2 separate regions of the Homo sapiens genome follow, and region 2 is linked to region 1. The links come from fine-mapping of genetic effects on gene expression. A gene starts in region 1. The other region holds a variant in brackets. All regions are shown on one strand. Distances are between the middles of the regions.

The links. PIP is the estimated chance that this variant, and not a neighbour inherited with it, causes the effect.
Region 2: its variant is fine-mapped to the expression of GSTM3 in sun-exposed skin (GTEx, PIP 0.96).

Annotation. Positions count from the first base shown.
Region 1 is chr1:109,736,425-109,744,758 of GRCh38, forward strand. It overlaps GSTM3 (glutathione S-transferase mu 3), which reads right to left and starts at 4,614. Exons shown (of 9, transcript NM_000849.5): 1 at 4,529-4,614; 2 at 3,816-4,087; 3 at 3,409-3,484; 4 at 3,005-3,069; 5 at 1,861-1,942; 6 at 1,667-1,767; 7 at 1,232-1,327; 8 at 1,033-1,143; 9 at 1-745. The coding sequence starts at 3,863. The coding sequence ends at 647. RefSeq lists a silencer at 3,824-4,053.
Region 2 is chr1:109,706,040-109,714,373 of GRCh38, forward strand. It overlaps GSTM5 (glutathione S-transferase mu 5), which reads left to right and starts at 6,212. Exons shown (of 8, transcript NM_000851.4): 1 at 6,212-6,309; 2 at 6,579-6,654; 3 at 7,080-7,144; 4 at 7,445-7,526; 5 at 7,622-7,722. The coding sequence starts at 6,274. The variant T/C (reference allele first, on the strand shown) is at 4,469.

The DNA of each region.
Region 1 (8,334 bases):
CCTATGGTTTTTTTCTTTTTACGTCTTTAAAGAAACTTCTCCTACCCCGTGGTCACAAAAATTCTTACATTTTCATCAATATTTCAACAGCTTTGTGTTTAATGTTGGGCCTTAAATTCCAGATTAATTTTAGTGAATAGTGTCAAGTGGGGCTCTATTATTTTTAATGAGTAAGCAATTGTCCCAACTCTATTGGCTAGCCCACCAGTCTGAAATACTGCCTTTATCACACTAAACTCCCATGTGTACACAGGACGGTTTCCGAACTCCGGTTAAGTCCATCAGTACCACAGTTTTACTTGTGTTATCCTCACCCAGTCTTCACAGGGACTCCAGTCCCATTTAACACACCTGCTCTCTCCAACTGTGCAATCTCGTTTTTTCTAGTACCCACTCTCAGGGCTTGGGCATGAACCTACAGCCCTTGAACTCAGTTGGGGAGTAGGGAAATGCCAGTATCGCAGCGATTCAATTCATATCTTGATGATTCTCCACATATCCTTTTTCCCTTTTAGCCTTTATACCCAAGAGAAACTCAGCTGGACACCAGTAACATAAGTGCTATTCATTGAAAAGAGCAAAGCAAGAGCGCTGACCCCTTACGGACAGGATGAAACAAAACAAGCTCTGCAAGTCTGCCTCCTGCTCAGCATACAGGCTTGTTGCCCCACTGGGCCATCTTGTTGTTGATGGGCATCTTGCAGAACTGATCAGACTGTAAGTAGGCAGCGATTTTCTCCAAAGCCTGAAAGGAAAATACACCAAATCTTATAACGACCCCAACCCAGTCCAACAGATGCATACCAGAACAGCAACATTCACGTGTTGCCTGCGTCTACCTCCTCCATTTTTTTGTAGACAGTGCCTCCAAGGTATAGAAGTTAGGCTCTTCCCAAGACTTAAAGGTCTAGAGGTGTCCAACCATTGATCCCATTAGGCAAAAGCCGGGGAAGAATCCTCCACTATGGGATCCTGCAGGTCCCAGGGGAGCCTGTGAGTGTTTTTATAAGAGAAAGGTGCAGGAAACGTCACCTCAAAACGGCACATGAAAGCCTTCAGGTTTGGGAACTCATCCAGGCACTTGGGGTCAAATATACGGTTCTGATCCAAGATATCATAGGTGAGAAAATCCACAAAGGTGAGCTAGAAGAAAAGCAATAAGATGCTTAGGTCTGAGGAGTAGTAGCCTGCAGAGATAGAGAAGTATCCTCTTCTTTTCCCTTCTTCCTACCTTTTCCCCGGCAAACCATGAGAATTTCCCCAGAAACATGGAGAATTGTTTCAGTTGTCCAGGTAGCTCTTCCAAGTACTGAGGCTTCAGTTTTTCCTGAGAGGAAAAAACAGAATGAGAATAGTGGTGATCATCTTTGTAGTTAATCAGGGCACAGGCCAGTGATGGACACTTAGTAGCCCCTTCTCTAGGTGGGTTCTCATTGCCTTCACTTGAGGATGGCAGGGTGGGGAAAGAGGAGTTTAGAAAGAAGAGGCACCAGCACCAGAATTACATGACAAAACAAACCAAAAAATATAAGTTCTGTTTCTTATTCTAACAATCTGGATTGGTGGGAAGGTAGCAGCAGCAGAATGGAACAGAGATAACCCTTGGGTTCCTAAATACCCCTTTTTCTGATACTCCATTCAGCAGATGTGTGCTAAGGAAACTCACGTGGTCAGAGCTGTAACAGAGCCTTATCAGTTGTGTGCGGAAATCCATTACTTGGTTCTCTATGATGTCCACTCGAATCTTTTCTTCTTCAGTCTCACCACCTGTAGGCCAAATGACAACAAATCACCCTTGGCATCATCCACTCTCAGACAAACTACCAGCCTGGGGTCCCTCACCAGCCCTACCCCACTCACACATGTTGTGCTTGCGAGCGATGTAGCGCAAGATGGCATTGCTCTGGGTGATCTTGTTCTTCCCATCCAGGAGGTAGGGCAGCTGAAAGGAAAAGGACAGGACAAATGAACAACCTGCCTCTCTCTTGATTCCCTACCTCTCTCTCCAGGGGAAAAGAACACTTGCAGGGCAGTGAACAAGAGTGAGAAGATGCTGTGTTAGGAGAAAAAAGAAAATAAGTAGAAGGTAGCAACTGGGTCCACAAGATTCTAGACAGGGGTTCTTAAATTGGTGTGTGTATGTGTGAGTGTATGTGCATGCCATGGACCTTTTCTCAGAATAAAGTTGTTAAATGCATGAAGCAAAATAGATAATTTACACAATCAAAAAATATTTTTAAAAATTCAAATAAGAGTAACATGTGCCTATTAGTGCATTAAATAGCAAGCAGATGTAATGACTAACATAATCTCAAAGTAAATAACATTATATGTATATATTTACTTACATGTATATAAATATCACTTAAAATATCTGCAACGCATGTTATAGAATATGAAACTACCTGATTTCAGGCTGGGCACAGTGGCTCATGCCTGTAATCCCAACACTTTGGAAGGCCGAGGTGGGAGGACTGTTTGAGCCCAGAAGTTCAGGATCAGCCTGGGTAACATGGCAAAACCCCGTCTCTTACAAAAATACAAAAATTAGCTGGGCATAGTGGTGTGTGCCTGTAGTCCCAGCTCCTTGGGAGGCTGAGGTGGGAGGACTGCTTGAGCCTGGGAGGTTGAGGCTGCAGTGAGCTGTGATTGCGCCACTGCACTCCAGCCTGAGCGACAGAGTGAGACACTGTCTCAAAACAAAAGAACAAGAAACACACAAAAAAGAAAATACCTGATTTCTACTAGTGACAAAGTGACAGACATGGCTAATAACCAATGTCACTTATTGTCTCTCTTCACAATAAAAGGAAATAACTTTTGCTAGTGGTTAATGGGAATGAAAATACATATCCATCCAGTTCAAGGACCCCTGAATTCTATTTATTCTATCCGGGTTAAGATCCCCTATTTTGCATCCTTCTGTACCAGGCAGGAGAGAGGCAAGGATGGATATACTTGAAGGCTTTCCCTTCTGCCCGCCACCTCTACTAAAGCCACTTACATTAGGAAAGTCCAGGTCTAGCTTGAATTTCACATCCAGCCATTGGCTTCGATCATAGTCAGGAGCTGTAAGAGACGGAATTAAGTGGGACCCAACCTCCTTAATACCCCACCTGACAAGAGCAAAAGATCTAAAGAAATGACTTGGTCCCAATACCTCAAATTCCCAGGCCCCAAAAGCATAACCATTGAGCCTCTGAGCCCTATTTGGTTAAGCATTAAGACGGGTTTGGGCTATGTTAAAAAGAGAACCCCCAGTTCCAGATAAAGGATGTGTCTCTATTCACCCAGATTGGGGCAAACGTCCCACCCGGCCTTGGCGCGACGCCACCACCCTCTGGGCGTAAGAAGACCAGGGCAGGTGGAGGGCCAGCTTGGCTGCACGGGCACGCGGAGCGGCATTACCTTCCCCGCACGTGTACCGTTTCTCCTCATAAGAGGTATCCGTGAACTCCAGGAGCAGGCGGATGGCGTGCGCCAGCTGGGGAAGACAGCGGTTCAGCGACTGCGCAGCTCCCACCCATTCCCAACCCCCGCCCGCTAACGTTCCCCGGCCCGGGGCTGCCGAGTCCCTGCGTCCTGCCGGGGCGGTGGTTAAGCGGCCCCTAGGCCCGGCTCCGGCGTGGTCTCCTCCGCCCCTCCCCACAGGGCCCGCGATCCCAGAGGCTGGGCAGGGGTCGACATCCGTGGCTCGGCAGCTCGAAAAGGCTCCCGCGTAGAGCTGCTCCTGCTGGAGATCGCGGACCCAGAGACCCGCCCTCTCCGCGTCAGTCTCTTTGACCGAGCGGCTCTACCGTTGAGACGGCACTCACCCCACGAATATCCCAGTACCCGAGAACCATAGACGACTCGCACGACATGGTGACGGGCTTCCGAGCCTTCGAGGACTAGGGAAACTGTGAGCGGGAGGGGCTTTATACCCGACATAAGGGGGCGGGGCCCACGCGCGGGCGCCCTGACTCCGCCTCCGCCCCGTTCTCCGTCCCTTGCCTCCGCGGCTCCACAGGGCCGTGCGCAGGCGCGACTAATGCCGGCGTTGGGGTTCAGGGCCTGGCGACCCCGAGGCGGGACCCGGGCAGGAGTGCTGCAGGAGAGCAAAGGACCCGAGGTTGAGGCTCCTCCCTTCCCCGCGGGTGGGAGCCAGACTTCATTCATTAATGGTGCCAGTGAAGACGCGAAAAGCACCACTAGCCAGGCAGTGGGGACCCTAGTTACCCAGGGAGAGCGAGATTCGCGCCGTTTTTACCGAGCCAGCCGGGGCTGGATGAAGGATAGGAAGACTGGGGCAAGGCCGGAGAGTCAGACCAGCCTCTGACCACACAGAGCAGAAGATTCCCCACAGACCAAGCTCCCCTCTCTGTCAGTCAAGGACCTCTGCAACCTGACCCCAACGTGCTTTTCCAGTCCTGTCTCTCCCTCAGCCCGTCACAACTTCATAAGCCAGCCCAACCCAACAATACTTGCTGTTCCTTCTACACACACTTGCATTTCCCACCTTGGAGTGTTTGCTCTGTGATCCTCCTACCTGCATCCTAATTTCCACAGCCTATCCTTCCTCAGCAGCCTTGCTGAAATGTCTGCCTATTCCTTGAAGCCTTCTCAGAACCAACCTCTATCCTGGCCAGAAGAGGTCTCTTATCTTGAATGTTTCCTACCTTTGTTTTATGGGCTTAAGTAATTTATGGATTCCTTATTATAATTTCCTCCTCCAATCCCTCCCACTTCCTAATGCTCACGCATTTAGGGAAATTAATCTTGCCTCTTTGTGTAGGATGGACTGGAGGAGGAAAGGTACTACCATTTTTCATTCACTCATTCATCTGTCCAACAATGTTTAACATGCCTGTTATGGACAGGCACTGTTTTAGGTGCTGGGGATACAGAACTGAACTCAACAGACAAAATCCCTGCCCTCAGGAAGTTTACATTCTAATGGGGAAGAAATAAACTAATATATAGTAAATAGCTAGTAAGTCAGGTGGTGATACACATCCTATGGAGAGAAATAAAATCGAGAAGAGAGATAGGGGGTCTCAGGGTGGGAACTGGGGGAGTCCCAGTAGGAAGGGGATTTATGTTTTTAAAGGTTATGTTCATAGAAGGCCTCATGGAGAAGTTAATCTTTAAACAAAGACCTGAAGGAGGTGAGAGATCAAGCCACTCTGCTGTGGGGGCCACCATGGGCTGATATAAATATAAAACAGAATAATTGCTGTTCCTTTTACAAGCATGTTTGCTCTGCTCCTGCCTGCACCCTAATGTCCATGGCCTAGCCTTCCTCAAGTAGCCGTGCTCAAATGCTCACTTCTTCCTTGAAGCCTTCTCAGAATCACCCTCTATCCTGGCCAGAAGAGTTCTCTCCCTCTCTTATCTCGAATCACTTCCTACCTGCAGGAGGCAGAGAGAACTCCAGGAAAAGGGAAACAGCAAGTACAGGAGTGATCACTCTGTGTTTGAAACCAGAGACTAGATGAGATCACCATGGGAGCACGAGTAGCAGAGATGAGGTCTAAGGGTTTGAGGTGCTCTGGCATATCAACATGTAAAGGTTAGGGAAAAATGAGAGCAAACCAGCAAAGGAGTCTGAAAAGGAGTGGCCAGGGAGGTAGGAGGAAAACAAAAGGTCCCAGAAGCCATGTGAAGATGTTTAAAGGGAGAAGTGATCAACTATGTCAAGTGTGGCTGATCAAGTAAGATGAAGATGGAGAATCAATGGTTGAATTTAGGAAAGTAGGGGTTTTGACCTTGACAGAGCAAGAGACCTGCCCGAGGCCCCTATAGTCATGGGAAGAACTAAGCTTCTGAATTTCGGCAGGGCCCATGCAAATGAAAAGGGGCACAGATTTGCAACAGGGTCAACTCGGGAGACATAGGATTCTAGTTGAATGTGGAGGAGTGACAGAGGAAGGAGTCCGGAGCTGCTCTGAGGGTTCTGGCCAGGCCTCTGCAGCACAGCTCTCAGGGCAGTCTGAGAGCCTAGATCCCCTAGCTCAGGTGTGGGAAATCACATTTGCCCATCAGTTCAACTGAAGCAAGGTTGGGACTTTTTAAAAGGGCATTTTGCTAAACAGAAGAAAGGAAGAGTACAAACCACATGGACAGGTGAAATTTATAATGCCTGTGTCTCTCCTCCCAAGAAAGCAAAAGGCCAGTCACAAATTCACCTGAGGTATAAGATTAACATTTATTGAGCACCTATCATATGCCAGGCAATATCTAAGTGTTTACGTATGTTAGCTAATTTATTCCAATTTAAGCTTCACAACAACTTTAGGAAGTAGGTGTTATGCCCATTTTCTTTTCTTTTTCTTTTTTTTTTTTTGCAGTTTTTGCATTACTTTCTTTTTTTTAAATTTTATTATTATTACACTTTAAGTTTCAGGGTATATGTGCACAATGTGCAGGTTTGTTACATATGTATACATGTGCCATGTTGGTGTGCTGCACCCATTAACTCCTCATTTAACACTAGGTATATCTCCTAATGCTATCCCTCCCCCCTCCCCCCACCCCACAACAGTCCCTGGAGTGTGATGTTCCCCTTCCTGTGTCCATGTGTTCTCATTGTTCAGTTCCCACCTATGAGTGAGAACATGCGGTGTTTGGTTTTTTGTCCTTGCGATAGTTTGCTGAGAATGATGGTTTCCAGTTTCATCCATGTCCCTACAAAGGACATGAACTCATCATTTTTTATGGCTGGATAGTATTCCATGGTGTATATGTGCCATGTTTTCTTAATCCAGTCTATCGTTGTTGGACATTTGGGTTGGTTCCAAGTCTTTGCTATTGTGAATAGTGCCGCAATAAACATACGTGTGCATGTGTCTTTATAGCAGCATGATTTATAATCCTTTGGGTATATACCCAGTAATGGGATGGCTGGGTCAAATGGTATTTCTAGTTCTAGATCCCTGAGGAATCGCCACACTGACTTCCACAATGTTGAACTAGTTTACAGTCCCACCAAAAGTGTAAAAGTGTTCCTATTTCTCCACATCCTCTCCAGCACCTCGTTTCCTGACTTTTTAATGATTGCCATTCTAACTGGTGTGAGATGGTAACTCATTGTGGTTTTGATTTGCATTTCTCTGATGGCCAGTGATGGTGAGCATTTTTTCATGTGTTTTTTGGCTGCATAAATGTCTTCTTTTGAGAAGTGTCTGTTCATATCCTTTGCCCACTTTTTGATGGGGTTGTTTGTTTTTTTCTTGTAAATTTGTTTGAGTTCATTGTAGATTCTGGATATTAGCCCTTTGTCAGATGAGTAGGTTGTGAAAATTTTCTCCCATTTTGTAGGTTGCGTGTTCACTCTGATGGTAGTTTCTTTTGCTGTGGAGAAGCTCTTTAGTTTAATTAGATCCCATTTGTCAATTTTGGCTTTTGTTGCCATTGCTTTTGGTGTTTTAGACATGAAGTCTTTGCCCATGCCTATGTCCAGAATGGTATTGCCTAGGTTTTCTTCTAGGGTTTTTATGGTTTTAGGTCTAACATGTAAGTCTTTAATCCATCTTGAATTAATTTTTGTATAAGGTGTAAGGAAGGGATCCAGTTTCAGCTTTCTACATATGGCTAGCCAGTTTTCCCAGTACCATTTATTAAATAGGGAATCCTTTCCCCATTGCTTGTTTTTGTCAGGTTTGTCAAAGATCAGATGGTTGTACATATGTGGCATTATTTCTGAGGGCTCTGTTCTGTTCCATTGATCTATATCTCTGTTTTGGTACCAGTACCATGCTGCTTTGGTTACTGTAGCCTTGTAGTATAGTTTGAAGTCAGGTAGCATGATGCCTCTGGCGTTGTTCTTTTGGCTTAGGATTGACTTGGCAATGCGGGCTCTTTTTTGGTTCCATATGAACTTTAAAGTAGTTTTTTCCAATTCTGTGAAGAAAGTCATTGGTAGCTTGATGGGGATGGCATTGAATCTGTAAATTACCTTGGGCAGTATGGCCATTTTCATGATATTGATTCTTCCTACCCATGAGCATGGAATGTTCTTCCATTTGTTTGTATCCTCTTTTATTTCCTTGAGCAGTGGTTTGTAGTTCTCCTTGAAGAGGTCCTTCACATCCCTTGTAAGTTGGATTCCTAGGTATTTTATTCTCTTTGAAGCAATTGTGAATGGGAGTTCACTCATGATTTGGCTCTCTGTTTGTCTGTTATTGGTGTATAAGAATGCTTGTGATTTTTGTACATTGATGTTGTATCCTGAGACTTTGCTGAAGTTGCTTATCAGCTTAAGGAGATTTTGGGCTGAGACAATGGGGTTTTCTAGATATACAATCATGTCATCTGCAAACAGGGACAATTTGACTTCCTCTTTTCCTAATTGAA
Region 2 (8,334 bases), 30 kb before region 1:
CCTGGTGTTAGGTAGGGCATCCACCTCTGCTAAAGGTATCATAGTTCATACTGGTCTCATTAATTCTGATTCCTCTGATGAGATTAAAATAATCGTGTCTGCCAAGGTTCCTGTTTCCATTCCGGCCAGTGAGTCAATTGCTCAACTACTTTTACTACCTAATATTGTTTTAAACAAAGGAGATAAGACAGGGGGCCCTGGGATGGGCTCTGGCGGTGAAAAAGCCGCTTATTGGATTAAAGTAATTTCTAAACAACAGCCCACCTGCACCATACATATTAAAGGAAAAAAGTTTGAGGGCCTAGTAGATACTGGGGCTGATGTTTCTATTATTTCCTCTAATTTATGGCCTTCTTCCTGGCTTAAACATCCCACTAACATGGGACTAGTAAGGGTTGGAAAAGCTGATGAAGTTCACCAAAGCACATTTATCTTGCCTTGCACTGGGCCTGATGGTCAAAAGGGAACAATTCAGCCTTATATCATGCCAATCCCCATTAATCTTTGGGGTAGATATTTGCTGGAACAATGGGGGGCTGAAATTAATATTCCACATAACTCTTCTCGTGCTCCCAGTCAACATATAATGGAAAACGTGGGGACTGTTCCTGGACTCAGTCTCGGTCCAAAACATGAAGGAATTACTAAATTCCTTTATGGTTTAAAAGCATAATTTAACCACTCCCCACTCCCAATTCCATTTAGCATTGTTTACTTTAAACTTTCTAAATGTTCCTAAAGACAATACTCTGACTGCAGCCGAACACCATTATACAGGCAAAAAATTCTCCCTAAATGAAAGCAAGCCAGTGTTATGGAAAAACTCCCAGACAAATACCTGGGAACCTGGAACAATTATAATGTGGGGAAGAGGGTATGCTTGTGTTTCACCAGGAGATCATCAATCCCCTGTCTGGGTGCCCACTAGAAGACTTTAACTTCGTGTGAATACTGACAATGAAAAACACAGGGAAGAGATGTCCACGTCAGAGACTGCCCTCATACCTGGTGAGATCTGTGCCAACTCCTCAAAAACTGGCACACCAAATCAAAATGGATCTCATTCAATCCTCCCTAATGGCAACAGAGACCCCTCTAACTAATCCCACTTCTCCTAATTACCTTTCTTTTTCTCCTTACAAACCTGAAAATCTCACCATTTCTATTAGCCTGAAAATAACATCCCTCTGTTCTTCTCTTCCTCCTTCAGCACTGGATCTCGCTTACAATAGGTTTTATTTAATAATTCTACTCCTTATACTTTCTGTCTCACCAGTTTCCCCTCACACTGATTTGCCTGCTACACAAAATTATTCTTATTGGGCTTATGTGCCTTTTCCTCCACTTATTCGACCTCTCACCTGGATGAATGCTCCTGCGGAAATCTACACTAACGATAGTGTGTAGATGCCTGGAGCTATAGATGACCATTGCCCTGCTCAACCAGGAGAAGAAGGCACTGCATTTAATGTTACTATGGGTTATAAATACCCTCCTCTGTGCCTCGGACATGCAACTCGTTGTATCCATCTAGAAACTCAAGTCTGGGCTGCTTATCTTCTGGAGAGATTAGCTACAGGAAAATGGGGACATTTGGTCTCCGGCCTCTCCCTTTGTCCTTTAAGACAAATGAAAAGGGGAGTAATAGGAGATACCCCATACTTTCAATATAAACCTGTAGGAAAACTATGTCCTAAAAATTTTGAGGGCCCATCTAAAACTTTAATTTGGGGAGATTGTGTTAACTCACATGCAGTAGTATTAAAAAATGACTCATATGCTTTAGTAATAGACTGGGCACCAAAGGGCTATTTAAAAAACACTTGCTCCTCTGGGGGAGGGGAATTCCTGGAGGCTACTTATTTTATTTCTTATTGGGAGGACGAGGATCATCATCCTACTTTGCATAGGTGGTTCGGCTCATTCTTTACCTTAAAATGGGAAGATAAGGACATTACCCTCCACCCCCAAGGCCTTGTATGATATTCCCCATTCTGAGCCCAGAACACCCAGAACTTTCGAAATTGGCTATTGTCATGTCTGGACTGCCAGTATCTGTGATTCTGAACCCCATGATAAATCCCCTTTGAACCTTTTTCCTCTTTTTGATGCCGATCCTCCTTTACGGGACTCCAATTGGCATTACGATAATTCTTATCGACCCAGGTATGCCCCTCTACTTCTTCAGCATCCCCAGGCACCTCGGTTTGCTTCTTTATGGTGGAGAACATCGGGCATTGCCACCGCCGCTCCTCTCCCTCAGTATCAACATAGATTCAAGCATTCTGCTTTGTTTACCTCCAACCTGACTATTCCTATACAGAGTTGTGTTAAGCTTCCTTACATGCTGTTAGTGGCAAATATCAAAATTTGGACAAACAATCAAACTGTCCAATGCATTGTCATTTATACACTTGTGTTGACTCCCGTTTTGACTCCAGGAAAAGTGTAATGTTGGTTGGAGCTCGAGAAGGAATCTGGATACTGTGTGCCGGACCAGCCAAAGAATCCTGTGTCAAAACCGAGAGAACGAATAAGCCTTCATCACCATGGCACATTTATATAAAAAGAAAGGGAGAGATGTTGCGGGAAGTCAGGGACCCCGAATGGAGGGACTGACTGGAGCCGCGGCAGAGGAACATAAATTGCAAATATTTCATTTTAATATGGACATTTATCAGTTCCCAAATTATTACTTTTTACATTTCTTACGCCTGTCTTACTTTAATCTCTTAATCCTGTTATCTTCATAAGCTGAGGATATATGTCACCTCAGGACCACTGTGATAATTGTGTTAACTGTACAAATTGATTGTAAAACATGTGTGTTTGCACAATATGAAATCAGTGCACCTTGAAGAAGAACAGAATAACAGTGATTTTTAGGCAACAAGAGAAGACAACCATAAGGTCTGACTGCGTGCAGGGTCAGGCAAAATAGAGCCATATTTTTCTTCTTGCAGGGAGCCTATAAATGGACATGGAAGTAGGGAAGATATTGCTAAATTCTTTTCCTAGCAAGGAATATTACTATTAATACTCTGGGAAAGGAATGCATTCCTGGGGGGAGGTCTATAAACGGCCGCTCTGGGAATGTCTGTCCTATGCAGTTGAGACAAGGACTGAAGTACACCCTGGTCTCCTGCAGTACCCTCAGGCTTACTAGGGTGGGGAAAAACCTGGCCCTGGCAAATCTGTGGTCAGACTGGTTCTCTGCTCTTGAACCCTGTGTTCTGTTGTTTAAGATGTTTATCAAGACAATACGTGCACTGCTGAACATAGACCCTTATCAGGAGTTCTACTTTTGCCCTTGTCCTGTTTCCTCAGAAGCATGTGATCTCTGTTCTGTTTTTTGCCCCTTAAAGCATGTGATCTTTGTACCTACCCCCCGTTCGTACACCCCCTCCCCTTTTGCAATCCTTAATAAAAGCTTGCTGGTTTTGAGGCTCGGGCCGGCATCACGGTCCTACTGATATGTGATGTCACCCCTGGCGGCCCAGCTGTAAAATTCCTCTCTTTGTACTCTTTCTCTTTATTTCTCAGCCAGCTGACACTTATGGAAAATAGAACCTATGTTGAAATACTGGGGGCAGTTTCCCCGATAGCCTTGCTGAGGAAATTAAATTTATGTTCAAGTGCTATTTCTTTATGGAACCAAGGAACAAGTATTTCAAACAATACTAATGTAACAGTACTGGTTCTATGTGTTTCAAAATTATTATTCTCATGAGTGTTAGCTTTCTTAAAAAATCGTTTTTATCAATTGGATCTAGACATCTTATCTTTCACAGCTCAAGACCCATTAACTCAAAATCATAAACTCTTAATGCATAATGAGAAATATAATGATTCCTAGGGCCAGGCACTTGTGTCTGTGCTGGTGCTATTGCCTCAATGCAGGAAAATCTATGTGAGAATTCACTGTGAGGCCAAAACTGCTTCCTAAACATGGATACCTGCCAGGTATCTGAGCTGGGAGTACTGCCCAGGTCTGGATGGGTGGGGAGTGTTTGCAACAAGGACTGTGCCTTGCCAGCCTCAGTGACACAGTGTCCAAGTGCCCCAACTTAGCAGCCACCTGCTGACCACCTGATTTCTGTGGCCTAATAGGGATGTGATGAAGTCTACCTGTTTACTCAACCCCAAACCACACATTATCCAGGTGGTTTGAAACTTTTTTGATATACTGGGTTCATCCTCTGGAGTCCTAACAATGTTTTAGCTAATTTACAAAAAAACAAAAACAAAAACAAAAAACAAAAAACTACTTTTTTTGCAGCACAACAGCCTGGTTTACATTGCAAAATGATTTCTCATTAAAGGTCTATCATCTATTTCCATATATCCATTATTATTTGTAATATCCTTTAAAAAAAGCAGTCAACCCCAGGCTAATCCATTGCACAACTCTTTTGAAAGTCTTCCTTCTACCTTGAAAGAAGAAAGTTGGCAGGTTGGACATTGTTCT[T/C]GCGGAGGTTGTACCATGGGTCACATATCACGGTGTGACTTCAAAGGCCACTGGAGCCACCGTCTCATACTGAAGAACACACATGGGTCAGGAGCCAGGTCCAGGTCCGGCATGGTGGATCTGGAGAGGGGAGAGTCCCTGCCTGTGATCCTGTGGGGAGCCCTCAGGCTCCTCTCTGGCCACCATCCTCTGACCTCCCTCCTCAGCAGGACAGGGTTCTGGCTTCTCTGAGGGACAGGTTCTGTGGCAGACCAGGTGTCACTAACACAGGCCTCCATAACAACTGTTTCAGTACTGACTGAGTGATGAAATTAAATATTAAAAGCTGAAAAAAGCCAGTACCTTTATACAGAGGCTGGATGTAACAAAAGCCCACCAAGAGTTTTGCTTAGGCCTTTCCTGGGCCTTAAAGCATGACAAAACAACGAAGGAATTCTTAACAGGACCTATTTAGAATTAAACAAGTTTTATTGTGAGTCTGAAGAAACTCCCCAGGCCTCCACAAACAAGTTTACTGGGCATCTGAAGGAACTCCCCAAACCTCCATGATTTAGCAGGAGACAAGATAAGGGCAATCATCCCCCGCACCTGGACCCATTTAGATTAAGTAAATAGACTGAGGCTCCAGAGTAAGGTCCTCAGGACCCAGACCTCAGTTACAGATTAAAGAAGTTAATCACTTATGTCTTTAGATGAATGCACACTTACTTGTAGACATATACCTTAGAAGGTATATATGCTCTGGAAAACTTTAATTTTGAGTTGGTCTGGTAGTAATTTCCAGGCCTTCTCCCTGTAACTGGTTGCAGAAATAAAACCTCTCTTCCTCCCCATTTGATCTGCATCTCGTTATTGGGCCTAGAGAAATAGCAGCCGGACCCTCAGTTTGGTCCGGGAAGTTCTTCCATCCTCCCTCGCCTGCTCTCTGTGGCCACTGCACTCACTGTTGCTGTTGCTGTTCCGGTCTCTGTGAGGTTCACCTAGTGGACTGGCTGGACATTTCTAGGGGGCACCTCAGATACCTCACCAACTTGCTGGATCTGATCCTTGGATTTCGATTCATAAATTGTGCCAAAATACGAAGTGGCTAATTTACATAGTACTTAGCCAGATGACCGAAGGACTCAGTATCCAAAGGCCCCTAACAGAAAACACAGACCACATTTCCTTTACTCTGGCCCTTTTCCTGGGGGTCCTTCCTATACCACTGACACTGTTCCTGTGTAGGCGGGGCTAGAGGGGAGACTAAGCCCTCGGAGTAGCTTTCGGATCAGAGGAAGTCCTGCTCTTACAGTGACAGGGGCTGAATTAAATTCCCAGGTTGGGACCACCACTTTTTAGTCTGACCCCTGCAGCCGGAGTCTCCCAGAGCCCTTGGGAACTCGGCAGCGGAGAGAAGGCTGAGGGATTCTGCGGGCAGGGAGGAGAAGGGAGAAGAGCTTTGCTCCGTTAGGATCTGGCTGGTGTCTCAAGCGCACAGCCAAGTCGCTGTGGACCTAGCAAGGGCTGGATGGACTCATGGAGCCTCAGGGCGGGTTGGGGAAGCTGGCGAGGCCGAGCCCCGCTTTGGGCTTCTGGGCGCCCTGACCTCGCTCCCGGAACCCTGGGGACTGGGAGGCGGGAGGGGGCTTATTGATTCCAGCCCCGGGCGCTCGCTCGGGGGCCTACAGAATGGCGTGTTTCGGGGTTGTGGCGGGCCGAGGGGCGGGGTCGCAGCAAGGCCCCGCCTGTCCCCTCCTGGGCCTCTCAAAGTCTGAGCCCCGCTCCGCTGATGCCTGTCTGCAGAATCCGCACCAACCAGCACCATGCCCATGACTCTGGGGTACTGGGACATCCGTGGGGTAAGCGAGGGTCCTCTGGTGGGTGGGACAGGGGGCGGAGGCGGGGATGTGTGGAGTAGCTGCAGGACTGGCTCTAGGGACCGTTCCTCTTCAGGGCTGCCCGCCTCAGAAGGGCCTGTGCATGACGCTGTGTGTGTGTTTGGGGGTGGGGGCGGGTAGAGGAGGCGACGGGTACGTGCAGTATAGACTAGGGGCTGGCCTGGTGCAGAGAAAGTCACCAAGTCAGGGACCCTCCATCTCTGACCCGAGCCGCGGGCCATCTCTCCCAGCTGGCCCACGCCATCCGCTTGCTCCTGGAATACACAGACTCAAGCTATGTGGAAAAGAAGTACACGCTGGGGGACGGTAATGGCACCCTCGTGTCCGGGCCCTGCCCACTCACGCTGAGTTGGCACCAAGCAACCCATGGTGGCCACCTGTGGCTGCCTCTGCAGGCCTCCCCTGCTGGAGCTGCAGGCTGTCCCTTCCCTGAGCTCCCGTGAGTGAGCCCTCTGGCCTTGCAAGGCAGAATGCTGGGGCGGGATGCTGGACACCCTGTCTAATTGGGTTGGGTGTCCCTCAGAGCTTCCCTAAACCCTGGAAGCCTTAGCCGTTGTGGGGTCCAGAGCCCTCAGTGGGATTCTTTCTCCCTGAACCCTGGGATGTGGGACTGAGTGGTCAGATTCTAGATCCACCTGTCTCAGGGATCTTGCCACTGGCTCCTTGGGAGGGTCCCCGGGAAGGAGGGCTGGGCTCTGGGGAGGTTTGTTTTCACTTCTTCCCCACCACAGCTCCTGACTATGACAGAAGCCAGTGGCTGAATGAAAAATTCAAGCTGGGCCTGGACTTTCCCAATGTAGGTGCAGGGGAAGGGGCGGTTTTGGGGGAAAGTGCGACGTGTCTCTGACTGCATCTCCTCTCCCCACCTTAGAGGTGTTAAGATCAGGAGTCTTCTGCCCAATTCCTCTCACTCTTGGCTGTCTACACAGCCCTTGCATGATGTTCTGTGTCCCAGCTCATTTATTAGTGTGACAGTATTTCTATCTCAGGCCTGCCATGAGCAGGCCCTGGTCTCCTCTCTGCCCTTGCATATGGGAAGGGGATGCTGGGGAGCCTGGTGGCCCAACTGAGCTTCCCCGGTTTCCCATCTATCCAGCTGCCCTACTTGATTGATGGGGCTCACAAGATCACCCAGAGCAATGCCATCCTGCGCTACATTGCCCGCAAGCACAACCTGTGTGAGTGTGGGTGGCTGCAATGTGCGGGGGGAAGGTGACCTCCTCCTTGGCTGGGCTGTGATGCTGAGATTGAGTCTGTGTTTTGTGGGTGGCAGGTGGGGAGACAGAAGAGGAGAAGATTCGTGTGGACATTTTGGAGAACCAGGTTATGGATAACCACATGGAGCTGGTCAGACTGTGCTATGACCCAGATTTTGTGAGTCCCACACCCCACTCCCAGTCACCCATTTCCCTGCCTTTTGGCCCAGACCAGGGAGGGACTTCCAAAGTCAGGTCTGTAGCAGACTCCGGCCAGCTGACTGGAGACGTCTATAACCTGGTTCTCCAAAATGTCCACACGAATCTTCTCCTCTTCTGAAGATTCTTGTGGACATTTTGGAGAACCAGACCACGGACAACTGGATGCAACTGGTCATGATCTGCTACCACCCAGAGTTTGTGAGTCTCCCCAGTGAGCTGCACCTGGCAGAGTTTGGATTTGGGGCCAGGACTCTTGCATTCCTGCACGCACTGGTCTTTTCTTAAGTCCTTGGTACCACTCATCCTCCAAGTGCTTTCCCATACTATCAGCAGTTATTCTCACGACTCCAATGTCATGTCAACAAAAGCAGAGGCAATTCCCACCAATCTTAGGACACGATCCAGGCATCCCACGGTGGAAATTCAATTCCTAGATGGTAAAATTTGTGTTCAGAATCTCCTTCATCTCCTCTGGCCTCTGGCCTCTGTCATGGGTCATTTCTGTCAGTTGATTTATATCACCTACCTGCTCCTAGAATATACAGACTCAAGTACAAGACCAAGGAAT